Linked DNA regions of Homo sapiens. The protein of the gene in region 2 purifies or fractionates together with the protein of the main gene of each other region. This does not show direct contact. Each region holds a gene or a part of one and is shown on either strand. Other genes may lie near its edges. The genes, in order: IPO5, SLC27A2, MIGA2 and KIF14.

Region 1 (7,313 bases), on a different chromosome or scaffold from region 2:
GAGTTTGAGACCAGCCTGGGCAACATAGGCAGACCTTATCTCTTAAAAAAAAAAAAAAAAAAAAAAAAAATCAAATCTAGCTGGGCTTGGTGTTGTGCACCTGGGTCCCAGCTACTTGGGAAGTTGTGGTTTCAGTGCGTCCTGATCACGCCACTGCACTCCAGCCTAGGTGACAGAGTGAGACACCATCTCTTAAAATAAAAGTCTTATTTTCTTAACGTTTACCAAAAGATATTTGGGGAAAGTAGCAACTATATATAATTGTAATCATTTGCTAATTATCCTTAAATCCTTAAGTGGGCCACAGAAAGCTGACAAACATAGGATAGGTCACGTTTTCTTTTTCATGTTTTGGCACAAGTGGAAACAAAGGCACATGCAGAGAACCGAGTTTATCACCTAAGAGTACACTTAGTGCAAATACAAACAATCATGGTGAAGTCTACTTCAGTCAACACTGTCTAATACTCCAAGAAACTACAAGTTTACTAAATCTAGACATGTTTTGTATTCAGAAGTTGTAGGATATCATCGTGGAAATAAAATTTCAGTAAAGGGACCATCAGTTTGACAACCTGTTCGGTGTACTCCACAAAGCCTTCCTTTAACTCCTTAGCATAGCAAACCTGTAACCAAAGTATTGGGAGGAAATAAAGATTCATGTTAGTCTTCAAGCATTAATATTAACAAACAGCAAAATCATAAGGACCACAGGAGGTTGTATTTTGACTAGAACTACATTTAAAGTTGCATGTAGAACTGTCAAATTAGTCTTCCAACTAAAAAGAGTCTTAAAAGAAGGGTCATGAAATGATTGTAGTATTGGTGAGTGACAAAAAGAAAAAAAAAAAGGAAATTATTGTCGTATATATTGTCCCTTCAAAGGCTGGAATCATTCGTATTCCATTCAGCAAGTTTCAGCAATACATCAAACAAAATGTATCACTTAATTGAGGAAAAATCATTCTAAAAGATACAAAAAACCCTGAAACCATCAGTTAATTGAAGCATTTACTTTGTAAATCTGTAGAAAACGCTTCTGTTATTTTGTATTTTTAAAAAATCATGGCTGGGCACGGTGGCTCATGCTTGTAATCCCAGCACTTTGGGAGGCTGAGGCTGGTAGATCACGAGGTCAGGAGTTCGAGACCAGCCTGGCCAACACAGTGAAACCCCGTCTCTACTAAAAATACAAAAATTAGCCAGGCATGGTGGCGGGCACCTGTAATGCCAGGTACTTGGGAGGCTGAGGCAGGAGAATCGCTTGAACCCAGGAGGTGGAGGTGGCAGTGAGCCGGGATGGCACCACTATACTCCAGCCTGGCTGACAGAGTTAGACGGATCACGAGGTCAGGAGTTCAAGACCAGCCTGGCCAACATGGTGAAAACCCGTCTCTACTAAAGATACAAAAAATTAGCCAGGCATGGTGGCGTGCACCTGTAATCCTAGCTACTCGGGAGGTTAAGGCAGGAGAATCACTTGAACCCAGGAGACGGAGGCTGCAGTGAGCTGAGATCAAGCCACTGTACTCCAGCCTGAGCGACAGAGTAAGACTCTGTTTCAAAAAGCAAAACAAACAAACAAACAAACAAAAAAAACCCCAAAAACCCAATTGTTTCATTCTCTTCTACTACATCTAAAGATTAATTCTGTTTAAAGATGTTATTATTTGTATTTGCTTTCCAGTTGAGAGAAAAAACCCACAAAAATCCAAAGTGTTTATAATTTATAGATACTAAGTATTGAAGATGACAATAAGAAATACATTAATTTCTAAAATCTAACTTTAAAAGTAAGTATTGGCCAGGTGCAGTGGCTCATGCCTGTAATCCCAGGTCATGGCAGGCGGATCACCTGAGGTCAGGAGTTGGAAACCAGCCTGGCCAAAATGGTGAAACCTCATCTCTACTAAAAATACAAAAAGTAGCCAGCTGTGGTGGCAGGCGCCTGTAATCCCAGCTACTCGGGAGGCTGAGGCAGGAGAATCAACTGAACGCCAGAGGTGGAGGTTGCAGTGAGTCGAGATCGTGCCACTGCACTCCAGCCTGGGTGAAAAAGAGAGACTCCACCTCAAAAAAAAAAAAAAAAAAGGATTATCCTTCACTTTAAAACGCATGCTCATAAAGAAAACAAAAAGAAAACTAGGAACTAAACATGCATATGCACACCACAAACACCATAAGGGATAATAACCGAACATTTTGATTTTCCTGCCATATCTGTTTTTTTACACAATTGAAATCATACAAGTTTTGTTTCACATTAAATAGCATGAACACACTTCTGTTCATTTGTTTAAAAAACATTCCATGGCCACCTACTATAGACTAAGAACAAAACCAACAAAAATCCTTCCCTCATGTAGCTTATAAACTTTTTGTAATGGCTGTATATTACTCCAAGGCACAGTAATTCATCTTCCCACTAACAGGAATTTGGGCTATTTGTTGTTTTTTGCTATTTAAAACAGCACTGATAATGAAAGGTTTATCCATACGATTTCTTTAAAATGGAAAGAAAACTTTACTTTTTAAGGAACATATTACTGGCTCTCCAAAGTAATTTCTTTAGCAGCTATTAAAAGCACTCATATGAAATGTATATAAGATGTAAAATAAAAGTTTAGTAAAAACAGTGCTCTCTTACCAACATCTGGCAAGCAGTTGATTTTTCTTCTAGTCCTGCAGTTTTAATACCAAAGCTTTGCTGATCTCCAAGGTTCACAAATTCCCAACCATCATCATCACTCATATTCTCCATGTCTTGGGCTATTAACGGAGAAGAAAACAAATGCATATGAAAAATAATAACAAAGAGAGAACTATTATAACCGATAGCTCCTTCTAAAGACACCTACTATCTAAAAGGGCTACTTCGGGCTTAATTGAAGCCGTCTTCATTAAAGGCCCCATAACCACTGGAAGGTATTGCTGAAATTCTTTTCCAAGGATTTTGCACATTCTGGCCCATGCTGAGATCATGTAAGAGATCTGGGGAAAAATTTTAAAATTAAAATAGATTAAAAAACAATGGGTAAACGTGATAAAGAAAGCCATTTCCTTATTTCATAGAAACAATGTTTTATTGATATGTTCACAGTACTTTAAGCAGTAAGAGCATTTCTAAAGGTTATGTACTTAAAAGGTTCAGAATCAATAATGAAATCCCTGTGAACTCACTACACTGGGATATGGACAGCAGGTGAGGCAAAACACAAAGACCAGAACCTTGGGTATTTCTTTCTACTTTCAGTAAGTGATAATGGTTTTCTTTCTTAGCATCTGAATCATCTAAATGAAACTAATCACCTAAACAAAACCAAACACTTCATCAACTCCCAGTTACAAATTTTTTGAAGACAGAAATGTATTTTATCTGACTCTGTATCCCTATTGCCTGCCACTCCATTCATTAAACATTTATTAAAACCCAAGAAACAAAACATCCTTTTCTCTTAGCTGTTATAATTTTCTCATAAGTGGCTGAGTATATTTAAAACACCTCTTCTCCTATTACTGTGTTTACACAGACTTTATCATCTGCAAATTACCTAGAGAATCTGGTTCCATTCACCACCCCTGCAACCTAGAAAGTGATTCTTATCCCCTGATATCTGTCATCCACCTACCTATTTATCTATTGAGCATGCATGGACACATGCCCCACCTCTTAATGATTTTATATGTAAAAGTCCACCCGCTCTTCAGATAGGTACTGGGTGTTTCTCACATGCCAGGCATTAAACTATATGCTGGCTGATACAAAGGTGAGCAACACGCCTCGTCCTTACCACCCCTCCCTACAGCTTACAGTCCCCTCAGTCTCCCTACTGTCAGCAGTCTGCTAAGTATCCCTCCTGCCTGTTATCTCTGTACATACAAAACATACATGTATATTTGCATATCATTTTGCAAAGAAAGCAAACAACAACAAAACATGCTTTCTTTGCAAAATGGTATGTTTTCCTATTTAAACTATTACAGTGTGGCAATGTAAAGTCAAAATTTAATTCAACAATTATTTATTGAGTGCCTTGTTATATGTTAGGCATTGGGAATACCATCAAGATATGACAAACATTTATGATGTTACTATAACAGTGTTGGAACTGCCCACCATTGAGACTGAGCAGATCAGGAAAATCTTGTAAAGGATGAGAACTGTGAGCAAGCGTTAGCTGGGTATGTATACCTATGTGTGTATGTGCGTGTGTGTCGAGAGGCAGGGGTTCCTCCTAATGAAATGCCTTTGTCTGTTCGTTGGCGGAGAGGCAAGCAGTGTGTCCTGAGATTCTTGGGTTCTGTATTTTCTGCCAGGGGAGGGAGATCATGCAGCCTTCAAAGGGCTAGGAGACACCCAAATGGAGATGTCTATTACATGTTGGATAAATGAATCTTCAATTCTGAAGATCTGAAAGTTGCAAGCACACAGAGGAAACCGGAAGCCATGTCTGTGAGTGACACTGCTCCACAGGAGTGAGAAGAGAGCCTTGGATAGAACCCACAAACACCAAAACTTGAGTGAGAGTCACAGAAAGCAAGAGCAACCTACAACAGACTGAGAAAAAGTAGCTTGAGAAACAGAAGGAAAATCAGTGAAGAATGTCTCTGCTAGCAGGGGTTGATAGTATGTCAAGAAACCTATCACTCCTTTTGTTTTAAATATATTGAACCATGTGCTGTCCACAACTCATTAGCGGATCAAAGCAAATGCATTAAGACCACTTACCTGAGGATCATCATCTTCCATATCATTGAAGTCTGTCTGGGTCTTTAACAAAAGCTGCATCACATCTGATGCATCCTGCATGAACTAGAGGAAAATATGTAGAGACACACTTGTTGATACCGAATTTTGTTTCTTGTGTAATTAGCAAAGCTTTGCCAAAAAATCGACTACATTGCCCACATAGGTCATAACTTTCATAGATAAACTATCATATTGAAAAATTCTCATCTATATTGTGACAGATTTAGTTCACTTTCTAGAAAAATATATTTTCCACTGAAGGGCAGGGAACTACAGTATAAAGGTACTTCTAATGGCATCAGGTGTTAGTCTATGGCTTACGCATTTCAAGCAGTAAAACTGAATTCAAATTCAGAAAGAAAATTTTAGATTGTTTATAGAATTCACTGCATAAAATTTTGTCTATGATTTTCACTTAACTCTTTGCAGTTCTGGTAATCTCCATTGTATAAACAGGCAGCGTTTTAAAGAGACATTGAAAGCCAGATATATAGAGTATGGGACATACAAATATTTTATTGGTAAAAAACATACCAATGTTTTAGTGGTCAGCGTCTCACAGAAACCAGTTCCAAATATAAATTAATACTGATGCTGGTTTTGAAGAAGGCAAGACAGAGCTTCTCTGTTGATAATTCTCAGGGTCAGAACATGAGGATTCAATGACAGAGAAACTTCTTTTGCATTAGCTTGAACAATTCTGAGATGTTGGCTGAGAAACACACTGGCCAATGGTCCTTGGTAATTATTTTCTGAAGATCTATATGCATAGATTTCTCTCTTAGAACACTTGATGCATTTTAGATTAATAGGAAAGCAAGTGACATGTTTCCAAGCACATATTTAAAGGGAACGAACATGGATACTGACTTCCACACACCTCCCACGAGATGCACTGTGTGTGGTGGGGAAAGGAGGAGGCATCAGGAGCACAGCTGAGCTAAAAAGAAACCTTAATATTAACAATGAAAAGACGGGCTGGGCGCGGTGGCTCACACCTGTGAGCAGACTGCTTGAGGTCAGGAGATCAGGGCTAGCCTGGCCAACACAGTGAAACCCCATCTCTACTAAAAAAAAAAAATACAAAAATCAGCTGGGAGTGGTGGCAGGTGCCTGTAATCTCAGCTACCTGGGAGGCTGACGCAGGAGAATCGCTTGAACCCAGGAGGCAGAGGTTGCAGTGAGCCAGGATCATGCCACTGCACTCCAGCCTGGGTGATAGAGTGAGACTTGGTCTCAAAAAAAAAAAAAAAAACACCAAACCAAACAAACAAACAATGAAAAGATGAAGGCAAGAATTTGTATATAAAACAGGAGCAATGTGAAAGGAGTAAGGAAAAAAACAAGCATCCAGAAAACCATTTTTCAGAAGGAAAAAATCCCTCTAGTACTCTCAATGCCTCCACAGCCAAGTTAGGTACAGTAAATTTAACATAATAGAAATTACAGGCCGGGCACAGTGGCTCACGCCTGTAATCCCAGCACTCTGGGAGGCCGAGGCGGGCGGATCACGAGGTCAGGAGATTGAGACCATCCTGGCTAACACAGTGAAACCTTGTCTCTACTAAAAATACAAAAAATTAGCCGGGCGTGGTGGCGGGCGTCTGTAGTCCCAGCTACTCGGGAGGCTGAGGCAGGAGAATGGCATGAACCTGGGAGGCAGAGTTTGCAGTGAGCCGAGATCGTGCCACTGCACTCCAGCCTGGGTGACAGAGCGAGACTCTGTCTCAAAAAAAAAAAAAAAAAAAAAAAAAAAAAAAAAAAATTACTTACTTTTTCCTTCCCAACAGCCAGACCAATGAGGCTAATGCATTCAATAGTTTTTCCTCTCAGAAGTCTCAGTTCTTTTTGAACCGCATTCTCAACGATGTGCTTCAGTGATGGCATAAATAAATCATAGTAGGGGACAAATTTTTCTTCTGCAGTATCGGCAACTGATGCAATGGATGTCACAACTTGTTCCAAAACTAACTTGGTGCCTTTCTGAATCAGCTAGAAGGAAGACACAAATTATTACCTCAAAGGAAAACTGGAAGAAGTATTTAAATTTACAATTACTACTCCCTTCAAGTTCTTGAATGCTTTTCTGAAACAGCAGAATGAGACCACCTCTCCAGAAGCAGAGACTGTAGGTTTTGGAGGAAATTTCTATAAAAAGAATCTATGTTGAACTATTTATGTGAGATTTTTTTTTTCTCTCTTCTATTAACACAACACCTCTAACTCATGTTAGTCTCATCTCAAAGCACAGCTAATTCTTGAGTACAGATACGGAATCAAAATTTTTGTGTTCATCAACTTTAATGCCTACACTTCATCCTCATTTTTTTCTTCACTGATTTCCTCTACTTATGATTATATTTTGTGCTGTCTTACTACGTCATAAAGAAAATTCCCTCTTTGGCCCCTTCCTTTATCTTCTAACCCCCTCTCCCCAGAAGATCGCACGAAGGAACCCTGCTGCCTTCTCTTGCATCTGTCTTGCTGAAACAGATGAGATGACCTTTTTCTCTGCACCAAAGATCTGGTGTTCTCTGACCCAGCTAGTAACAAATGCTTACTA
Region 2 (7,719 bases):
ACTTTTTTTCACATGAACTCTACATGGAAGTGTAAAACAAGTATATGAGCTGTTTTGATTGGAGCTAGGGTAGGATCCTCCCAGAGCCCCTTTCCCACTCTATGCAATGAACTCTCCTCAGTAACTTCTCAGCCACTAGGGCTCTACCGAGTAGTTTGGAAGCCAATGGACTAAATCAGTAGTTCTCAAAGTATAGTCCCTGGACTAGCAGTGTCAGCAATACCTGGTAACTTCTTAGAGATGTGAATTCTTTGAATCAGAAATTTTGGAGATGGGGCTTAATAAACTATATTTTAGCATGTTCCCCAGGTGATTCTCAGACTTGTAAAGTTTGAGAAATAGTGAACTACTTCATCTCCATAAAGTAGGAAGGGACGCCACCTGCTTTAAAAGAACATTTGAGATTGGGATTGGAAACTTTGAAGGGGGTAGGGAAGGTCTGGGACTGCCAATAGGAAGCCTTCTCTCAAATAGCAGAGATAGATGATAGGGATGAACGTCCTGACCAAGGCTAGAAGGTGTCAGTATGCACACCCAGTAATCCTGTCTTGCCCCTAAACTTCTCCTGCAATACCTAGAATAGGACAGAAGACAGTGGGCATTTGAGGTCATCTATACCTGGATAGAAAGTTTAAGGAAAAGAGGGGTCTAGGAGGCCACGTTGAAGTGACTGGCCAGGAAGGGACCGAAATCTTGATAGAGGAAATGAATAGGCTCAGTAATGTCAGAGAATGGGAGAAGTGGAATGAGGAGGCTTAACTAAGCCTATGGGGACGGAGAATCTCCATGTCTGAGATCTCAGTGCTGACAAAATCCTAAATTACATCAAAGTCCAAGATCTGGCTCTATTTCATATTTCCCTGTGGAATTTATGTTACTGAATAGACAAACTTGTATAAAAACAATTTCTATATGGTATAAAAACCCAGACAAAAGTTGCAGTTTTCTACATTCAAAAATATTTTTAATGTTTTTATTTTTATCTGTTTGTGAGAATTTGTAAGATTATTTTGTTTTGTTTTTCATATGAGATGGGGTCTCACTGTGTTGCCCAGTCCAGTCTTGAACTCCTGGCCTCAAGTGATCCTCCTGCCTCAGTCTCCCGAGTAGCTGGAATTACAGGTGCATGCCCCCACACTTGGATAATTTCTGTACTTTTTATGTGTTGGTGTAACATTGTCTTCGTCTTTTCTTGGAAAGGGCTATATGTTTATTGTTACTGTCTTTAAAATTGTGGTAAAATATGCATAACATAAAAATTAACTATTTTAACCATTTTTAAGTGTACAGTTCAGGTATACTTTTTTAGTGCCAAAAATGTCATTCTTCTATAAAATAACAAATATACTGTGATGGGGGAGGGGGTTGTTCTTACTAGAAAAATTAAGAAGTCGTTACTTATTTTGAGTCCCTAACTTGGTTTCGAAATATAACACGGGACTAAGAAATTCAGGAATCAAACAACTACTGCCCTAAAGGAGAGTTGAGATTTACAGGGTTAGGATGGTCAGGGGTGGAAAGTGGTAAGAACAAGCCAGTAGAAAGAGGAAGGTGCAGGGCATTTTTAGGAGTGTGCAGACCAGACTTGCTAAAAACAAAGTGCGCTTGAAAAGGAACAGTTAGAATTAAGTTTTGGTCCATTTTAAAATATTTAATACCTAATAATGTTTGGTTCATAGCAGAAACTCAATAAATATTTGTCAATTGAGTGTAGTGAAAGCTTGAGTGAGATTCAGAAGAGCCAGAAAATAAAGTTTAAATTTCATTTTATAGACCAGAGGTTCCCAAGAGATGTACCAAGAATGGGCAGCCAACGTGCTAAGCTATCGATCACCTTTCAAAGGAGTCAGGCAGAAGCCAGGGCATCTGGTCAACTCTAGGCCAGGTATGTTCTAGTATGCTGTACAAGTACAACTGTCTATAGATGTCATTGGTGGAAGACAATAGGAAGCAATGGGGAACCACTAAAGATAATTGAGCAGTGGAGATATAAGATGGCAGCAATATTTCCAGGAAGACTATTGCTGTGGTTTTAATGTTCATGTCCCCTACAAAATTCATATATTGAAATCCTAACCCTCAATGTGATGGTATTAGGAGGTAGAGCCTTTGGGGAGTAATTTGATCATAGGGCAGAGCCCTCATGAATGGGATTAGTGCCCTCATAAAACAGGCCCCAGAGAGGTAATTTGTCCCTTCTACCAAACAGTACACAGTGAGAAGGCACCATCTGTGAGAAAGTAGCCCTTCACCAAACACCACATCTGCTGGCACCTTGATCTTAGACTTGCCTCCAGAAGTCTGAGAAATAAATTTCTGTTGTTTATAAACTACCCAGCTTACAGTATTTTGTTATAGCAGCCCAAACAGACTAAGACATCTATTAACCTCGTGATAAAGCAAGAGCTGGATCCCAGGCTCAAAGCTGGAATCACTGGGACTCCCAAGGTATATATTATAGACATTTGAAAATTACTTCCCCAAATTTACTCTCCCTAACCCCACTTTTTAATAATACCGTAAAACGTTCCACAAAATGGCCTAGGTGAAATTGATTATACTCTCACCCCCATGGGTGAGCGCTGATTGGCTTAAAACAACTAGCACCTTTTTCCCCAGGACCCACAGACATTGGTTCAGAAATGGGCGCATAATCCAGTCAGGGATTTTTTTTTTTATGAGAACTCCTAAGAAAAAGATTCCTGTACTTCTCTCTGAAGTTGAGCCAGAAAGCATGTACCCCTAAGGGCTGTTGGCAGCCATCTTTGGACAAAAACCAGAGAGCCTGAATGAGAACAGAGGAGGTGCAGAGGAGAAATAGTGAAAGCAAAACTAGATCCAGGTGTCAGCATTTAAAATCCTTGATGTCTTAGCCCCGGACTCTCCAGTTACTACTTAAATTCCTGTTTCTGCTTCAGCTAGCTTGGGTCTTGTTTTCTTTTACTTGTAACTGAGGTTAAAGTGATCCTCAGAATAAGAGGGGAAAAAGTGGACCCTTGTGGTAATCTAGCACTCTGGGTAGACAGTAGCTGTTCAAGGAAAAGAGAAGAGGGGTGCAGGTGGCTACACAGAAGCGATTAGCCATCAAGGGACGAGGGTGGCATTGGGATGAAAAAGGAAGGGCTGGCTCTGAGCTTCACCATGAAAGAAGTGCACATGAGAATGGTTTCTGTCGGGCCCTCACTTTGGTTAATTCTACTGCTTTCTCCTCAGGGATGATGAAGGCCCCCAGCTCATCCCCAGGGAAATGATGCAACCAGGTAGCTGGATCAGAAATGAAAAAGTCAGGAAAAGGGAAAGGTTGCTTGCGCAGTTACTAGGGATACGAAAAGGAGGCTAAAAAACGGCAGGGGGTGGCCTGGAGGGAATGTGAAACATTTTTGTGTGTTTTACACACACCGAAAAAAAAAGAGGACATGGACAGAAACCTAGAGAATAGGAGGACAGCATAGTATAGTTACTAAGAATAAGCTAAGAGTTGGTTCCCCGGGACCAAACAGATACCATTTCCAAAACCCACGAATTACTTACCGGCTGTCTCAATTCACCTAAGCTTCCCTTTCTTGTCTGTAAATGAGCATGAAAGTGCCACCTGTATAAAATAACTCAGGCTCCCAAAATGTAACATAGGGAAGCTCCTAGCAGCGTGTCTGGGAGGAATAAGCATTATCTGTATTTATCGTATCAAATTAAGATAGAGGAACACAGGAGGACAGTAGAGGATGAAAATAAAACACTACTTAGATCCTGACCCTCCTCAGTGGCAAGTAGTGAGCATTCACTTCGTACAGAAGTAGCACTAAGGCAAATTAAAAGAAAGGTTCACATTTCCTCTAAAAGAAATGGTTTTTGAGTCATGCCAATACCACTTACTCAATGTCCTCTGTACTATACTATTCTCTGACAGAGCCACTTATTAAATGTGTGAACTGTGCTGACAACACTTGACAACTTTCAACATGAGGGAACAGCAGGATCACTTAACAGAACAAAATCGTAAAATAATGTCAAAGCTTGATTTCAGGTGGTGCGGTGTAGCACTGCTCTTCACGAAATCAGGACTCCCCCGACCAGGCAGGGCCGACTAGGTTAGAGTGTCCTGCCCTCACTCACCTGGCAGGGCTTGGGATGAGCTGGACGTGACTGCCACAGGCATTTCTGTTCAACCTTGAAGCCTTCGCTACAGGAGACCGCCTGGCAGTCGGGCTGGGAAGCAAATCTGAGAAACAAAGAGAGACCAGGCGGAAAGCCCTTGGGACCAGGAAGGAGAGATGAGATTCTGGTTTGGCAGTGGCACCTGGTACCCGCTATTAATAAATAATAGGACTGTCTGACATTTATAAGGCACTTTATCGGTAATAACAGTGTCATCTCCATAAGCCATTCTATTAGTGGTAACAAATAATAGCCCCACGCCTGCAATATCTCCTTTAATATTCCCAACGTCCGCTAAGCGCGTCTCATCACCATTTAAAGAAACCGTGGCTCCTAGAGGTAAAGTACTTCGGTCACAACGCGAGGAGGTCCAGACTTGACCCCAGACCTCCAGACTCGAGCTGGGAAGTGGCCGAGGCTCCTGGTGAGCCGCAGGGCAGCCTGCCCAGCCCCGGGAGGACCGCGTGGGAGGGCCGGGAGAGCAGGTGGCTGCCCCCCACAAGGGGGCGGGCTCAGCCGGCCAGTCCTGCCCGGAACCCCCGGCAACGCGCATACGACTACACCTGCTCCGGAGCCCGCGGCGGTACCTGCAGCGGAGGAGCTCTGTCTTCCCCTTCATCTCACGCGAGCCCGGCGTCCCGCCGCGTGCGCCCCGGCGCAGCCCGCCAGTCCGCCCGGAGCCCGCCCAGTCGCCGCGCTGCACGCCCGGGGTGAACCCTCTGCCCTCGCTGGGACAGAGGGCCCCGCAGCCGTCATGCTTTCCGCCATCTACACAGTCCTGGCGGGACTGCTGTTCCTGCCGCTCCTGGTGAACCTCTGCTGCCCATACTTCTTCCAGGACATAGGCTACTTCTTGAAGGTGGCCGCCGTGGGCCGGAGGGTGCGCAGCTACGGGAAGCGGCGGCCGGCGCGCACCATCCTGCGGGCGTTCCTGGAGAAAGCGCGCCAGACGCCACACAAGCCTTTTCTGCTCTTCCGCGACGAGACTCTCACCTACGCGCAGGTGGACCGGCGCAGCAATCAAGTGGCCCGGGCGCTGCACGACCACCTCGGCCTGCGCCAGGGAGACTGCGTGGCGCTCCTTATGGGTAACGAGCCGGCCTACGTGTGGCTGTGGCTGGGGCTGGTGAAGCTGGGCTGTGCCATGGCGTGCCTCAATTACAACATCCGCGCGAAGTCCCTGCTGCACTGCTTCCAGTGCTGCGGGGCGAAGGTGCTGCTGGTGTCGCCAGGTGAGCCCCGAGGATCGCCCTGCCCTGGCACCAGGGCTTCTCGGCGCCTTGACTGACGAGCCACAGCGTGGCATAAGGGGTTCGCAGAGGGAGGTTCAGATCGGAACTGTAGGTATAGAAAAAGGTTGGCAGTGTTTCCTTGAATCGCAAATAATGATCTTTTAGGACCACCTGTTGTGGAAGCTGATAATGTGCTAGGTTCTGTGTTAAGCACTCTACAGGCAGTGTGGTTTTTAATCCTCACAATGGGTAGGCTTTGTTATAGGACTTTTATAGATGAGACCACTGAGGTCCTGAGAGGTGAAGCCTCATGCCCAGCCATCTATCTCCAAATTCCAAGCTCTTAATCAATACTTATAACATCTGCATTAAAATGCAGAGGATCTTGAGTGCGAACTCTAGTGGATCCAGAGGGGCTCTTCTCACCTCTGCTGCTTGACTGGCTGTGTGATCATGGGAAAGTCACTTCTCCTCTCTGTCCCTTGGTTTGCTCCTCTCTAATGAGGCAGGCTTCAATGTTGCTTCCAGCTCTCAACTGCTGTTAGCATCCTGTCCCCTCCCTGCAGAACAAAGGTGACCCCACCTGATCCCCAGGGAGAAGATACTGGGGATCTGCTACAGGACCGTTGTGAGCCCCCACTGCATCTATCACAATAGTGACCCTTTCAGTTCTGTGGTTAGCTCCTGCCACATTTCAGCCAGACTTGAAACAGTAACTTAAGTGATGACAAGGTCAGGAAGTGACAGAGAACCTGTTACTCACAGGGCTGATGGCTTTCCCCTCCCAGAGAGCTTGTCTCTGCACTTGAATAAGGACCAAGGGTTCCTTCTCTCAGTCAGTAAGAAGAGGCCTACACAGGAGTGGGCTGAAAGACCTGGGTGACAGGGTAGGGGTCGAGGGAGCCGAGGAGCCTCAGCTTTCTAGAATGCATTTCTGTGCTAAGCCCTATAGTAGATGCTTTTATTACCCCGGGAGATAACATATCACTATCCCCACCACCACCACCACCATTATACAGTTGAGAAAACTGAGGCTTAAAATTCCAACCTAGCTCTATCCAACTTCGAAGCCATGCTCTTTCCTACATCTTTTTTTTTTTTTTTTTTGACAGTCTCGTTCTGTTGCCCAGGCTGGAGTGCAGTGGCGCTATTTCAGTTCACTGTAACCTCTGCCTCCCAGGCTCAAGCGATCCTCCCAGCTCAGCCTCTCAAGTAGCTGGGACCACAGGCATGCACCACCATGCCCAGCTAATTTTTTGTTATTTTTGGTAGAAACAGGGTTTCACCATGTTGCCCAGGCTGGTCTCAAACTCCTGAGATCAAGCGATCCACCCACCTTGGCCTCGCAAAGTGCTGGGATTACAGGTGTGAGCCACCACACCCAGCCTCTTTCCTACATCTTATTGTTTTCCTCTGCATGGATGTAAACTGTTAAGTGTGCTGGAAGGGATGAAGTGTCCACTTGCTCTACCCCTTCATTTCATAGCTGGGGAAACTGAGGCAAGCTAAGCGGGTTACAGAAAGATGAAAGGTTAATTCACTTGTGAGAAACCAGGAATCTTACACACCTGCTTCATGTGGCATGAAATAAATAATCCAAAAAATATAGGCTTTGTATAAAAGTTTAAAAGCAGAAAGCCAAATTTTAGGCTGGGCGCAGTGGCTCAAGCCTGTAATCCCAGCACTTTGGGAGGCCGAGGCAGGTGGATCACTTGAGGTTAGGAGTTCAAGACTAGCCTGGCCAACATAGCAAAAACCCCGTCTCGACTAAAAAAAAAAAAATTAGCTGGGCATGGTGGCGCGTGCCTGTAATCCCAACTACCTGGGAGGCTGAGGCAGGAGAATCACCTGAACCCAGGAGGCAGAGGTTTCAGTGAGCCGAGATCATGCCACTGCACTCCAGCCTGGGGGACAGAGTGAGACTCCATCTCAAAAAACAGAATAAAAAAAAGACAAGTTTAAAGGTGGCTAAATTATTTGGAAGAGATGGTCCTTTCAAGAAAATTCCCATTAATTTCTAGCTGCCTGAGAAAAGCGATAACTTCACTACTTTGTAACTAGAAGACTCTCCTAAGCCTATTACTTTACCAGCTTGCTTGGAGGGAAATTATTAACACAGTGATCTTTGTACCACTTCAGGAAGCATTTAAATTCTGTTTATCACTTTAGTATCCCAGGTCCCCTGAGAGGGAGGTCACAGGGTTTGGAGTTTTGTTGACAAAGAAGTTCAGGATTAAATGACCATAATACAGTTTGATTCTGCAATAAAGTCAGAATTACAACCAGATACCCTCTTCCCACCCAGCTAACAGTTGTCTGCCATAGAGCTATG
Region 3 (7,288 bases), on a different chromosome or scaffold from region 2:
GCACGCACCTGTAATCCCAGCTACTCAAGAGGCTGAAGCAGGAGAACCGGCTTGAACCTGGGAGGTGGAGGTGGCAGTGAGCCAAGATGGGGCCACTGCGCTCCAGCCTGGGCAAGAAGAGCAAAACTCAGTCTCAAACAAACAAACAAACAAACAAACAAACAAAAAACTAGCTGGGCGTGGTGGTGCACACCTGTAACCCCAGCTACTCAGGAGGCTGAGGCAGAAGAATCGCTTGAACCCGGGAAGCAGAGGTTGCAGTGAGCTGAGATCACAACACTGCACTCCAGCCTGGGCTACAGAGCAAAACTCTGTCTCAAAAAATAATAATAATAATAATAAAATAAAGAAGCTGGGCACAGTGGCTTACGCCTATAATCCCAGCACTTTGGGAGGCCGAGGAGGGAGGATCACAAGGTCAGGAGATCAAGATCATCCTGGCTAACACAGTGAAACCCCATCTCTACTAAAAATACAAAAAATTAGCCGGGCGTTGTAGCGGGCACCTGTAATCACAGCTACGCGGAAGGCTGAGGCAGGAGAATGGCATGAACCCAGGAGGCGGAGCTTGCAGGGAGCCAAGATCGCGCCACTGCACTCCAGCCTGGGCAATAGAGTGAGACTCCATCTCAAAAAATAAATAAATAAAAAACAAAAAAATAAAATAAAATAAAACACACACACACACACACACACACACACACACACACACACACACAAACAAAGAGCTACTCCACGCTACGTATTTTGTGCTGCATTCTTTACATCCATCATCTCACTGAATCATTAGAATTTTGTGAGGTTGGCTGGGGTGGCTCATGCCTGTAATCCCAGCACTTTGGAAGGCTGAGGCGGGCGGATCACCTGAAGTCAGGACTTCCAGACTGGCCTGGTCAACATGGTGAAACCCCGTCTCTACTAAAAATACAAAAATTAGCCAGTGTGGTGGCACGTGCCTGTAATCCCAGCTACTTGGGAGGCTGAGGCAGGAGAATCGCCTGAATCCAGGAGGCAGAGGTTGCAGTGAGCCTAGATCGCGCCACTGCACTTCAGTCTGGGTGACAGAGCGAGACTCTGCCACAAAAAAAAAAAAAAAAAAAAAAAAGACAAACAAAAAAAAAGGATTATGTGAAGTTGATGCCACCCACCTTCCCCCCAGCCTCACCTCTGGTTTCCAATGAGGAAACTGAATCTCAGACAAGCTAAGTCAGGAGTCCAAAGTCACACAGCTGGTACTTGGTAGAGTCAGACTTTGTGCTCAGTACAATGCTTTTGCTAAATTTGACATGCAGCAGGAAGTAGCAAGCCCCAGCAGACCACAGAGTACTGGGCAGCTTTCCCCTGGACCTTGGGAGATACTCCCCTCCCTGCCAGGGTACCCCATTGCCCCTTCCCAAGGCCAGGAAATAAGTGGCTTGATCACACCTAGCCTGGACCCCAAGACCCGGCAGGGTCCTCCCCCACTTCCAGCTCCAAGCCCAAGGATGCCTTCAAGGTCTCCCGGGACCTCAAGCGGAAGGAACACACAAGCCAGGACAGACCCTGTCTCCCTGGGATGGCCGCCAAAGTCACTGGGCCAGCAGAAGAAACAGCTTCTCCCCAGTGAGTGGGAAGGACTGAGGAGCCTGTCAGTCTCGCTCTAGGGCTGGTGGGGGTGTGTGAGAGGGCAGGGCAGGCTAAGGAAGCTTCCAGGTTGTCAGGGGTAGAGACATCTGCCCAGGAGGCTGTGAATTGAGCTACGTGAGCTGCAGTGGTCAGGACCTAGGTTAATACTGTAAGCCACGTCCCCCTACCCTTCACCCCAACCCCAGGCTGGCTCAGGTCTCAGAAAGAGGGAAGACAAGAACATCAGAGGGCCAGCAGCTACTATTTCCCAAGCTCTTATTCCAGGCCAGATCCAGAACAGGCTCTCCACGACAGGCTTTGGGTCCAGTCCTCTCAGAACCCTCGCAATGGCCAATGTTTATCTCAAGGATGGGGAAACGCGGAGGCTCTGAGATGAGGCAGCCTGCCTGAGGTCACCGAGTACTAAGCGGCCAAGCTCTGGGGGATCTCAAGGCTGTGGCAGGGTTTCCCAGCTTCTGCCTGCTACAACTGCCACTGCTCCTTCCAGGCCACAACTGTAGGACTTCTGGGCCCCCAAGTGAGAAGCCCACATGGTGTTAAAGATGAGCCTGAACAAATAAACGCTACAGGGGTGACTGAGGCCCACTGTTTGCGGGAGAGTCCAGAGCAGCCCCTGCTGTCCCCACTGGGAGGCAGAGCCTGCAGGTGCGAGGTAACATCACCAGCCCCCAAGCCTGCTTCACTCCAGGGATGGATCCAAATCCAGTCAACCCACACTGTGTCCGTCCCCCTGGCACCCTGTCCGTCCTCCAGGGCCTAAGCTGAGACCCCTCCACCTCCTCTCCACAATGAAAAGCCCACGGCAAGGTCCCCTACCAAATGGACACTTCTACTGCTGTGTAGGGCCTGGCCCCACTTGGGCAGCCATCTCTTGTGCCCTACAATCTTAGGCGGACACCTCCTCATTCCACCGTCACCACAGCACTTACAGCACCCTCAGCCTGGGTGCCTAAGCATATCATCCTACGCGCCTCCTCCCCTGCGCTAGACCACCCCACTAATGACTCTGGCCTGTGCACTCACTCATTCCGTCTGGACCCCAACAACGTCCCCGACTCCCTTGAGCCACTCTGCCCAGTCTCCTATTCACCCCATGCCGGACCCCTCAATAGTCCCACCATGCCGGGCACCGGGCATCCCCGCGTTGGACCTCAGCAATATCCCCGTCTTCAGAAATTGCTCACTCCACCCCAGGCATCTTGGGCAGCCCCTTCTTCTCTTGCCCCCACCCCGGAATATCATTGAAACTCACCCAGGTACCCTCTGGCGCCGCTCACGGCCCGCACGCCTGCTCCTTCCATCCCGGGTGCTCTCCCCGCCTCGGATCGGGTACCTGCGCGCCTGCTCCAATCCCCGCCACGTTCCAGGCCCGGGCATCACCTCCCTGACCCAAGTACCTTCTCGTTCCGCTCCCAAGCAAGGCACCCTCTCGCACCGTCCCCGGCCCGGGTACCCACTCATTCCAACCCCGACACCTTCCTGGTCCTGTTGGGCCCGGACACCTGCGCCTACTCGGTCCTCCGCTCAAGTCCCGGCCCTGCCGCGCTGCCCGCCCGCCTTGGGGGCTCGGCCGGGGCCGATACTCACCCGGGATGCCATCGCTGCGGAAGGGCAGCGTCTCCTTCCCCGGCGGCTGCGCAACCAAACCGGCCGCCCGGGGGCGTGGCCTAGCGCCAAGCCCCCACCCTCTTCTGGCCAATGAGCATCGCTGAGTCTCTCAGGGCCGCCGCAGCCTCTGGCCAATTAGGCGGGTCATGTGACCAAGCTTATATTCCGCCTCTCCCGCCCTCTTCCCCTCCTCCTAGTGCGGTTGAAGCGCGAAAGTGGTCTCTTCTCTTCTACTATTGGTCATTCAGATTAGATCGACATGGGCGGCTGGGTGGGGCGGGGCCATTCTTAAAGGGGCTGAAGCGGAGCAGTCAGACCTCCAAGGGGCTTTCTTGGAGTACGCCAAAGCAGGCTGAGCCCTCGTATTAGGATCCTCTATTCTTGTTCCACACAAGGACAAATCCTTCCCACTCTCCAAGCGCCCATTTTCAAATACTACCGCCCCTGACTTCCCGCAGCATGCTCTTATACTGTCGCCACTCTCCCCCTTGTTCTGGAGTTGTTTGCAAAAGTGCCAGGTCTCGCCGCTAGACAGTGTCTCTCTGAGAGCTGGAGTCAAGGGGTCTTCAGTTCTGGCCACCTATCTGGGTCTTACACTAAATACCAGGATTGAGATCAGGCCGACCTGAGATAGAATCAAGTGTTGCCACTTCAGCTCTCTAGAGCTTACCCCTCTATGAAATAGGGATGAGGCCGGGCGCGGTGGCTCACGCCTGTAATCCTAGCAGTTTGGGAGGCCGAGGTGGGTGGATCACGAGGTCAGGAGTTCGAGACCAGCCTGGCCAACCTGGTGAAACCCTGTCTCCACTAAAGATTAAAAAAAAAAATTAGCCAAGCTTGGTAGCACACACCTGTAATCCCAGCTACTCAGGAGGCTGAGGCAGGAGAATCTCTTGAACCCGGGAGGCAGAGGTTGCAGTGAGCTGAGATCCACCCATTGCACTCCAACCTGGGCCAAAGGGCGAGACTCCGTCTCAAAAAGAAAAAAAGAAATAGGGATAAAATCTTCCCTTTCCCAAATCATAGGGCTTTGGTGAGGATGGAAAGAGGACGGTGTATCAGCCCTTCCATAACTGCGAAGAGCTGGGCACAACTACGTTTTAAAATTGTAATCGTCGGCCGGTAGCAGTGGCTCATGCCTCTATTCCCAGCACTTTGGGAGGCTGAGGTGAGTGGATCACATGAGGTCAGGAGTTCGAGACCAGCCTGGCCAAAATGGTGAAAACCGGTCTCTACTAAAAATAAAAAAGCTAGCTGGGCGTGGTGGCACACACCTATAATCCCAGCTACTTGGGAGGCTGAGGCAGGAGAATTGCTTGAGCCGGGAGGAGGAGATTGCAGTTAACCAAGATCACGCCACTGCACTCCAGCCTGGGCAACAGAGCCAGACTCCATCTCAAAAAAAAAAAAAAAAAAAAAGCCCGGGAGCAGTGGCTCACGCCTGTAATCCCAGCACTTTGAGAGGCCAAGGCAGGTGGATCATGAGGTCAGGAGATCGAGACAATCCTGCCCAACATGGTGAAACCCCATCTTTACTAAAAATATAAAAATTAGCCCAGCATTGTGGCGTGTGCCTGTAGTCCCAGCTATTCAGGAGGCTGAGGCAGCAGAATCGCTTGAAACTGGGAGGTGGAGGTTGCAGTGAGCCGAGATTGCGCCACTGCACTCCAACCTGGGTGACAGAGCAAGACTCCATTTCAAAAAAAAAAAAAAAGGAAAATTACAATTGTCGGTAAAGCCACATTCCTTCATTCATTCAACTAATTAAGTGTGCCAATCCTTTGGCTGGACATGGGAGCTCAGTGGTGGACAAGAGACAGGTATGTGGTGGCACCAGGGAGCTCATTGTCTGGGGAGCAGATACTTAATCACAATCCCCTGTGATGGTTACTCTAATGGGGGAATGTGGGATACCAAGGAGATACCTGGGCTTGCCTGGGGAGGTGAAGGGCTCCAGAAAGAAAAGGGGTCCAAGGCCGGATGTGGTGGCTCACGCCTGTAATCCCAGCACTTTGAGAGGCCGAGGCGGGCAGATCACCAGGTCAGGAGTTCGAGACCAGCCAGACCAACATGATGAAATTAGCCAGGGGTGGTGGCATGCGCCTGTAATCCCAGCTACTCAGGAGGCTGAGGCAGGAGAATCATCTCTTGAACCCGGGAGGCGGAGGTTGCAGTGAGCCGAGATGGCGCCACTGCATTCCGAGACTCCGTGGGGAGGGGAGGGAAGGGGAAGGCAAGGGAGGGGACGGGAGGGGAGGGTGGTCCAAACAGCGGATGCCCAGTGCCCGGCATGGTGGGACTGGTGAGAGGTCTGGCATGGGGTGAATAGGAGACTGGGCAGAGTGGCTAAAGGGAGTCGGGGATGTTGTTGGGGTCCAGGCGGAATGAGTGCACAGGCCAGAGTCATTAGTGGGGTTGTCTGGCACAGGGGAGGAGGCGCATGGGATGATAAGCTTAGACACCCAGGCTGAGGGTGCTGTAAGTACTGTGGTAACTTTGGAATATAAAATTAGCCGGGGGTGGTGGTACCTGCCCCCAAATACTTGGGAGGCTGAGGCAGGAGAATCGCTTGAACTCAGGAGGTGGAGGTTGCAGTGAGCCAAGATCGTCATGCCATTGCACACCAGCCTGGACAACAAGAGTGAAACTCCGTCTCAAAAAAAAAAAAAAGGGTGGGGGGGGGGCCAAGGGCCAGGCACGGTGGCTCATGCCTGTAATCCCAGCACTTTAGGAGGCTAAGGCGGGCGGATCACCTGAGGTTGGGAGTCGGAGACCAGCCTGACCAACATGGAGAAACCCTGTCTCTACTAAAAATACAAAAAATTAGCTGGGCATGGCGGCAGGTGCCTGTAATCCCAGCTACGCAGAAGGCTGAGGCAGGAGAATCGCTTGAACCCGGGAGGCGGAGGTTGCAGTGAGCCGAGATCGTGCCACTGCACTCCAGCCTGGTGACAGAGTGAGACTTCATCTCAAAAAAATAAATATAATAAAATAAAATAACTGTCCTCTAACTGGCAAAAGGTGTTTTGTTTTGTTTTTCTCTAGCAGCCAAATAAGCACTGGCTTCCAATGAAGGATGTATTAAATAAATAAATAAATAAATAAATAAATAAATACAAACAAGCATTGGCCTCAAGATAAGCAACACTCAAACAACTGCAGCTCCTTCAGCTCCCGGACGCTGACTAACTGAACTCCTGTTCTACTAGCCTAACTATAGCTTTCATTGGACAAAAGACTAATTTCAGTTACTCTTCTGATAAGACCAACAGCTGGGTGCGGTAGCTAATGGTTATAACCCCAACACTTTGGGAGTCTGAGGCAGGAAGATCACTGGAATCCAGGAGTTGGAGATCAGGCTGGTCAATACACAGCAAAACGCCGTCTCTATAACTTGCGGTCCCAGTTCCTTGGGAGGCTGAGGCGGGATGATCAATCGCTTGAGCCCAGGAGGTTGAGGCTGCAGTGAGCCGTGATTGTAACACTGCACTCCAGCTGGGTGGCAGAGCGAGACCCTGTCTTAAAAAAAAAAAAAAAAAAAAAGAATTAGACCACTGGCCATGGACCAGTTCTGGCCATTTTGCAGAGATTGGCCGTTGTGTGCCTTCATGTCCCTAAACAATCCTCTTGACATATAGGGCCTAATTGTAATACATCTAAATATTAATTCACCACAAAGTGAACATGGGACCACCTTGATGAATATTCATAGCACCTCCTGCAACCTGTTGAATATGTATGTTTAGTCAACCTATTCAGCATAAAGCTCCTACCACAAGTTCTCCTCCTTCCTGGAGGCGATGCAGGATTTTTCTTGACTTCTTTGTTGGACTTGCGATGGGGGTGCCCTGTCTAGGCCAGCCCGCCATGCTCAACCCTTGTGGGAGGGAGCATGTGGGCGAGCAAGTGCAGGATCCCGCTGGCTGCTCTGGGCGTGGGCAGAAGGAGGCTCCATGCAGGCCCCATGGCGGTGCCCAGGTCGGGGTGCCTGCAAACCCTGAAGCCCCAGAGGACATGTTACAGTGCTCTCTTAGCTCTGCTGTCCATGGACAGC
Region 4 (7,313 bases), on a different chromosome or scaffold from region 2:
CTTAACTTCTGCATAAGGTTCAATTCAATCCAATAAGCATTTCTTAAGTACCTACCTACTGCATGTTTGGCTTTAGGTTATTGTCAGGACATAAAGAAGTATAAGACAAGATTCTTGCTCATGAGGCTAAGATCTCAGAGACATATAACATACCTTCCAATAGATAAAACACAGCAATAGAAAATTAATTAAGAATCAAAATGAGATGACTATAAATATGACTAATCAGAAAAGGGAAAATTTAGGATGGCCAGAGAAAAGGGAAGGAGTAAATAGAATGTGAGGCATGAGAGACAGAGTAGATTGAACCAGAAAGAGGGGGTAGGGCATTCTCGGGCAAGGACAGCAGCATCTGTGCATCACATGTGCTCAGAATAGGAAAGACACCCTGTAGGTTGACATTTGATCTGGTAAGATGGAACCTTAAATCAACAATTCTTCCTGATTGGGAGAGAAAGCAATCATTAGATTAAGTGGGCTGAGCTTCTCCTCCTTTTGACTCTGAAAGATACAGTGTAGAGGCCAAAAACGGGAAACTTTGCTTCCAAACAGCTCTTCTGACAGTTAGGGCATGGTTTCCTTATTAGAGAAATAAATTTCATCCACTGACCCAGAAGTGAGTCAGCAAGCATCTAACAGAATTGGAAGCTTCAAGGGAGTGTCAAAGAGATTTAAGTTCAATTCACCAAATATTTATTGTGCCCTACTAGGTACAAAGCACTCTTCTAGGAGCTGTGGGAAAATATGAGATGAACTGGACATAGTTTTTATCCTGAAAAAACTCAGAAGCTAATTGGAGATGCAATACAGTACATGAGTAATACAAGGCAGAATATAGCTGGTGTCATGAGAGAGAAACAAAACACTTCCAAAGAGACCAGGTATAAGGGAACACCAAGTAATTATAAGGTCATTGACAAATGCTATGAACAGGGATGGGGGCTGTCAGAATTCAATAAACACGTAATAATGCTTATTTTATGTAAAATAGTATTTTATGTTATAGAGGCTCCAGGAGGACTTAGAAATGAAAATGTAGTGTGGGAAACAAATTGGAAAAGGTAGCTGGGGCCACACTGGAGAGGTCCTACTTTTTTCTTCTCCTCTGAGGCTCCTGCCATCATGCTCGCTATACCACCTTCTATTACCCCCATCCACATACTATTATTCTCTACCATCCTGGCTAATTCCAAAGTTGATATAACCACATTTAGTTGGGCTCACTATGTGCCAGGCACTCTTCAAAACCTTTTGTATAGATCAACTCATTTAATGCTCACAACAAACCTATGAGAAAGACATTGTCAATATAATCTCTATTTTCTGTTCTGAAACACAGAAAGACATTAAGTAAATTGTTCAAGATCACATTTCTACTGCAGTGATGAAGCTGAGATTCAAATTCAAATAATGTATCTCCAAAGTCCATGCTCTTTTTTTTTTTCTTTTTTTTGAGACAGAGTCTTGCTCTGTCGCCCAGGCTGGAGTACAGTGGCATGATCTCAGCTCAGTGCAATGTCCGCCTCCAGGGTTCAAGCGATTCTCCTACCTCAGCCTCCCGAATAGCTAGGATTACAGGCGCCCACCACCACACCTGGCTAATTTTTGTATTCTTAGTAGAGACAGGGATTCACCATGTTGGCCAGGCTGGTCTCAAACTCCTGACCTCAGGTGATCCGCCTGCCTTGGCCTCCCAAAGTGCTGGGATTACAGGCGTGAGCCACCATGCCTGGCCAACCAGGCTCTTAAGCATTCATTACACTATGTTATTCAATGACATAGTCATTCCACGCAAAATCTGAGCCTCCTAGTCCTTTGAAATCATTCCAAAGACCTTTGCCTCCACTACACTTATCTATGTCTTCCTGGCTTTACCTTCAAATTACTATCCCTCTAAAATCTGGAGAGCCAATAGAGAACTCTGCCCCACAAGCCCACAGCTTTCTCTTATGCCCACTAAACTTGGACTTGAATCATATTTCATCTCATAGTCTCAATACCACCATATTTCTATTGATCCCCATACTCCTCCTATTTTCAATTTAATTACTGGGAATGAGAGGTTGAGGGTAGAAGAAGACAGAGGAGAGGCAGTATATCCACAGAAGAGACAGAACTCATCAATTACTCAAATCTACTTTTCCTCTTGTGATCTCAAAAAATGACATCGATATCTAATCTGGTTGTCCAACCAGAAACATTGATTTCTCTCTCCCTCATCCTCCATTTCCAATAATCAGCAAGTCTTACCAGTTATCCTTACTAAGACAGTCCTTCATGAGCCAAGTTCTGCAGGCCTTTCTAGTTTATTCTCTTTTTTTTTTTTTTTTTTTTTTTTGAGATGGAGTCATGCTCTGTCACCCAGGCTGGAGTGCAGTGGCGCGATCTCGGCTCACTGCAACCTCCATCTCCCTGGTTCAAGCGATTCTCCTGCCTCAGCCTCCCAAGTAGATGGGATTACAGGCATGTGCCACCACACCTGGCTAATTTTTGTATTTTTAGTAGAGACAGGATTTCACCATGTTGGCCAGGCTGGTCTCGAACTCCTGACCTCAGGTGATCTGCCCGCTTCGGCCTCCCAAAGTACTGGGATTACAGGCATGAGCCACCGCACCCAGCCTCTAGTTTCTTCTCTTATCACTTTCCACCCTCAAATTCCATGCTCAAAACACAGTGAACAATTTATAGATTCCCAAAGGCTCCCTACTTTTTTGCTTTCAAATCTTGGTACATGCTGCTCCCTCTCCCTGGAATATCCTTCTCCCCTTCTTTACCAAGCTAATAATGCTATGTATCCTTCAAAAATAAGCTCAGCTGCTCCTTCCTCTGAGAGAATGTCTCCCTCCAACTTTATATGTCCTCACTTACATGTTCTATTAGAGCATCTACTTTAGTTTGTTTAGCATTTAATTGATTGTACTTGGCTGTTAACTTATTTCTCCCACTACACTCCTTTGAATACAGGGACTGGGTCTTTTAACTCCACACCCCTAATCTAGCACAATTTTCCCAATTTCCTTTATCATAAAAAATACTGGAGGAAAAGCATGAAAATTATAAAATCCCAAGCTCTACACCAGACCAACTGACTCAGAACCCCCAGAAGAGATTTTTAGCAAGTGTGTACATACACATACACATGCACATATATGTCCCTGCCAAGAATCCCCGGTGATTCTTATGACCAAGAAAATTTGAGAAAAAAAAAAACTGATCTAACAAGCTGCCTGGCAACAGCAGAATGCTCAGTAAAAGGTAGCTGAATGTGTAAATGAATAAGTGAAATAGGAAGCCAGTACAGCCTATTCAGGTGTAGTAGAGTGGAAAAAGCATGGCTTTTGAAGTCAACTCTGGGTTCAAATCCCAATTTCACTACTCTTTCTGATTCACGTTGTCCAAAAGGTTATGCCTGCTGTCCTTAGTTAAACTGTACACCTATCTGACTACAAACACACGTATAACAGCACATAGCTACCATGTTTGTGAGCCTCTACGTATACACAAAAGTAAAGCAAAAACAAGGGAGAAAAGACAGAAGAGATGACTTCACTATCACTGCCCACTAGGTGAAACTGATTCTGAATTTAGAATTTCCACCCTCCCTCTCCATACCACTGTTCCAAAGAAGAGTGATCTACAAATTAGAACTGATCTTCCATTAAGTATTTCCTTAGTGGCCATGACTGATTTGAACTTGATTTGACTATTTTCTACTCTGAAAAGAAGCTTGCAGGTATTATAAGAACATACCTCTTGGGTTTGTTTTCTGGCTACTTGAGAAAAAAGATCTTCACAAAATCTTGGAATTATTCCTGGTTCTTCACTAAATCCCATCATCCTGAAAAATACATTATGAATAAGGGGGAAATAAAACTAATTCTTTCTTTAAAATTCTTTTTGGGGAAATAGGCTGGGAAGGGAGTAGGAAGCAAGTTCACTGAATCTCATAATTAAGAATCTGGACTCTGGAGTCAAATCTGCCTGAGTCCAAATCTTGACTCCAAGATATTTAACCTCACTAAACTTCAATTTCCTCTACTGTAAAACAGGAATAATACAACTATCTAATTCAGAGAATTGTTGTGAAAGAATATAAGCAAAGTCTTTAGCACAGTGTCTGGAATATAGTAAGAACTCAAATGTTGGGCAACCCGCTTGGGACCCCTCCACGCTGTGGACTGTGGAAGCTCTGTTCTTTCGCTCTTCACAACAAACCTTGCTACAAAAAAAAAAAAAAAAAAAAAAAAAAAAGAACTCAAATGTTAGCTACTGTTAAAATGCTGAGTATTTCTTTCTAGGACAGGTATTATTATCATAGCTACCATTTATCAGATGCCCCTCCACCCTTTTTTCTTAAGAGATGGGGACTAAGTTGCCCAGGCTGGACTCGAACTCCTGCACTTAAGCAATCCTCCTACCTCAGCTTCCCAAGTAGCTGAGACTACAGGTGTGTGCCATCACATCTAGCTTAGATGCCTTACTTTTAATTCTCACCAAAATACTTAAAAGATAACCTCTCTAGGCCTTAGTTTATGTAAAATATATAAAGTACAGTAAAATGGGGCCAATGATAATTACAAGATGAATTGTATCAAGGTAAATGTATAAACTGAAGCCCAGAGGCTAAGTAAATTGCCCAAGTTTGCAGAACTGGTATATAAAATGGATGAGATTTGGGCCAAGATCTGTGTGATTTCAAAACTATATTCTTTCTATCACCCCTATGCCACTTCTCACAAAAGTATATTTAAACACTTCTGGATAATTGCATTTCCAATACAACTTACGTATATGATTTTCCAGAGCCAGTCTGACCATAAGCAAAAAGACAGGTATTGAAGCCTTCGAAGGCTCTTTCTAGGAGTGGTGCTGCTAGCTTCTCATAGACAGTTGTCTGGCTAGCGTAGTGAGGATGACATTCATCAAAAGACCAGAATGAAACATCATAAATAAAATTATAAACTTGTTTCGTGTCAGGGTGTTCCACAGTTATTTCTTTCCCACTCATGAAGACTACCTGGGATGCTTTTTCAATCTTCTCTCTTGAAAGAAGCACAAAGAAAAAAATCAAGTAACTAAAATGATCAAGGGTATTATTCTCACAGAACATAATAAATACCTCAAAACTATTTAAACAATCTTCCAAGGCAAGATAATTCTGTAGTTTTATGTGGAAAATGCAGATAAGCAAACATAATTCTAGTGGGTTTCCAAAATATATTTCCTGAGGCTCCAGTGCCACCAAAGGGAAAATCCCAGATTCCTCCAGAAAACCTATCCTACTTTTACAAGATTTTTTCCTCTTTTTTTTTTCTCTTGAACTATACCTTTTCCCATCCCACCTACTATAATCTACCTATACTCTTCATCCAAATCTACATCTTTATTATACAAATTTGGGGGGGTACCAATCTAAATAAAGCTGGCATAAAATACAAATATCTAATTTTAACAAACTCAGTTGACTGTAAGTTTCAATCATAAGTCTCTCTTGGCTACTAAAGATCTCTCCTCCTTCCTCTAGATTCTCTCCCTTAAAATCATGAATCTTTCTGTATATCCTTTTTCCCTTTGAGACTTAGGTGGAAATCTTTCATTTACTTTAGATCTACAGAAAAACATCATCACTCTTTGTCTGGCTCCAGATATACACTCCCTCCCCGCTCCATCCCTGACTCTGAGACTGCTTTAAATCAGAATTTATTCTGGAAAAAACACCTGCCTCATCAATTTGACAAGTACTCTACCCTGGCCCTGCTTTCAAGGCTTGTCTGATGAGTTTGGAATCAGGCACTTGGTCCCTTACTAAGTTCAGTATAGTCATCCATCTTGCATTTTGTCCCTACCAGCTCTTTCTATTGTTTCTCTTCCTATCATGGTTCTTGAGGCTCTATTAGACATTCCAATTCTCTCAAACCAACTCACCCTCAGTTCTCCCTCTTAATACTAACCCATTTGCACGAAAAAGATTCTACAGTACTGTATAACTTGCCTTTAACTACTGACCCCTTAGGTTCAAACTGGAGGTTCCTGCCCTGATGCAGTGGTCACCAAATCCTCTTCTAACTTGCTTAGATACACAGCTTCAAGTTAAACACTACTAACTCTGTGAAGTTTTTCACTGTCCCTTAAAATATTTTAAACAACTACATTAAAATATTTTAAAACAATTACATTTTGTCACATTCACATTTTGTCATGTCCATCTTTTCCAACCTTATCTTTAATCTGTGTCTTCCCCACCCACAACCACTTTTAGAGAGAGATTTTTTGCCATCAAAATCAAATCTAATGTATCACTGCATTTATAACTACTATATAGTAATCGGAGACAATGATGATGATAATCACCACTCTGGAAAGGGTTTTGAAAGGACCTCTTTAGGGAACCAGTAATTTGTTATGGCTCTTCTTTTTTTTGAGACAGTCTCGTTCTGTCGCCCAGGCTGGAGTGCAGTGGCCTGATGTCAGCTCAATGCAGCCTCTGCCTCCCGGGTTCAAGTGATTCTCCTGCCTCAGCCTCCCGAGTAGCTGGGATTACAGGTGTGCAACACCATGCCCAGCTAATTTTTGTATTTTTAGTAGAGACAGGGTATCACCATATTGGCCAGGCTGGTCTCAAACCCCTGGCCTCAAGTGATCTGCCTGCCTTGACCTCCCAAAGCAATGGGATTACAGGCGTGACCCACCACACCTGGCCTGTTATGGCTCTTTTTAAGGGATAGGTATAACATTCCAGCATATATTGCAGATCTGAAAGCAGATTTCATTAGAGACCTAAGTGACTTATTCAGACTTTTTAAAAGCAATATATCTAGAGAAACTTCAATATACAAAATATGGTGATTCAATTTTTTAATTTTATAGTCAGTGATCAAAAATTATCAACACACACTACAACTAGACCTAAAAGTTCTTTCTATATAAAAGTATTGCCAACAAGTTTGAAGATGCACGAATACACTGACCTTCCAAAGGCAGAGAGGAATTAAAGGTACCTTACATGTAACTGCTTGGCTTTAGATTTTAAAAGGCATCACATACCTCTTGGTGAAAGGTCTTACGCGTACTGCCACTGTCACTTGACTATTCTCTACTTTTAAGGGGTCTTTTCCTGCAGAGGTGTTCTGAACTACAGTTTCTTCTTCGGGAAGAATTGTATTTTCTGCGGATCTTTCCTGTTTATTTGCAAGAAAGGAACTTTTTGGTCTTTGTTTAACTTGAAGGTTAGACATTCTATTCTTCAGTATTGATGGAGCTGGGCTCTTAAGCTGAGGCAGGCTGCACTTTGTTGTCAGTTTGTGTTCTGTTGT

The links.
Region 1: the proteins of SLC27A2 (region 2) and IPO5 purify together in Homo sapiens (affinity purification with mass spectrometry; 2 studies listed by BioGRID and IntAct, with this or other methods). This does not show direct contact.
Region 3: the proteins of SLC27A2 (region 2) and MIGA2 purify together in Homo sapiens (affinity purification with mass spectrometry; 2 studies listed by BioGRID and IntAct, with this or other methods). This does not show direct contact.
Region 4: the proteins of SLC27A2 (region 2) and KIF14 purify together in Homo sapiens (affinity purification with mass spectrometry; 2 studies listed by BioGRID and IntAct, with this or other methods). This does not show direct contact.

Annotation. Positions count from the first base shown.
Region 1 is NC_000013.11:98,005,559-98,012,871, reverse strand, and holds part of IPO5 (importin-5), read right to left. Parts: intron 6,743-7,313; coding exon 6,524-6,742; intron 4,814-6,523; coding exon 4,730-4,813; intron 2,992-4,729; coding exon 2,859-2,991; intron 2,770-2,858; coding exon 2,648-2,769; intron 627-2,647; coding exon 530-626; intron 1-529. UniProt on the Homo sapiens protein: Functions in nuclear protein import as nuclear transport receptor. Serves as receptor for nuclear localization signals (NLS) in cargo substrates.
Region 2 is NC_000015.10:50,177,519-50,185,237, forward strand, and holds the start of SLC27A2 (long-chain fatty acid transport protein 2), read left to right. Parts: upstream 1-4,677; 5' UTR 4,678-4,909; coding exon 4,910-5,387; intron 5,388-7,719. UniProt on the Homo sapiens protein: Mediates the import of long-chain fatty acids (LCFA) into the cell by facilitating their transport across cell membranes, playing an important role in hepatic fatty acid uptake.
Region 3 is NC_000009.12:129,032,607-129,039,894, reverse strand, and holds the start of MIGA2 (mitoguardin 2), read right to left. Parts: upstream 3,270-7,288; 5' UTR 3,214-3,269; intron 2,962-3,213; exon of another isoform or gene 2,928-2,961; coding exon of another isoform or gene 2,879-2,927; intron 1-2,878. UniProt on the Homo sapiens protein: Regulator of mitochondrial fusion: acts by forming homo- and heterodimers at the mitochondrial outer membrane and facilitating the formation of PLD6/MitoPLD dimers. May act by regulating phospholipid metabolism via PLD6/MitoPLD.
Region 4 is NC_000001.11:200,610,568-200,617,880, forward strand, and holds part of KIF14 (kinesin-like protein KIF14), read right to left. Parts: coding exon 7,045-7,313; intron 5,043-7,044; coding exon 4,788-5,042; intron 3,839-4,787; coding exon 3,751-3,838; intron 1-3,750. UniProt on the Homo sapiens protein: Microtubule motor protein that binds to microtubules with high affinity through each tubulin heterodimer and has an ATPase activity. Plays a role in many processes like cell division, cytokinesis and also in cell proliferation and apoptosis.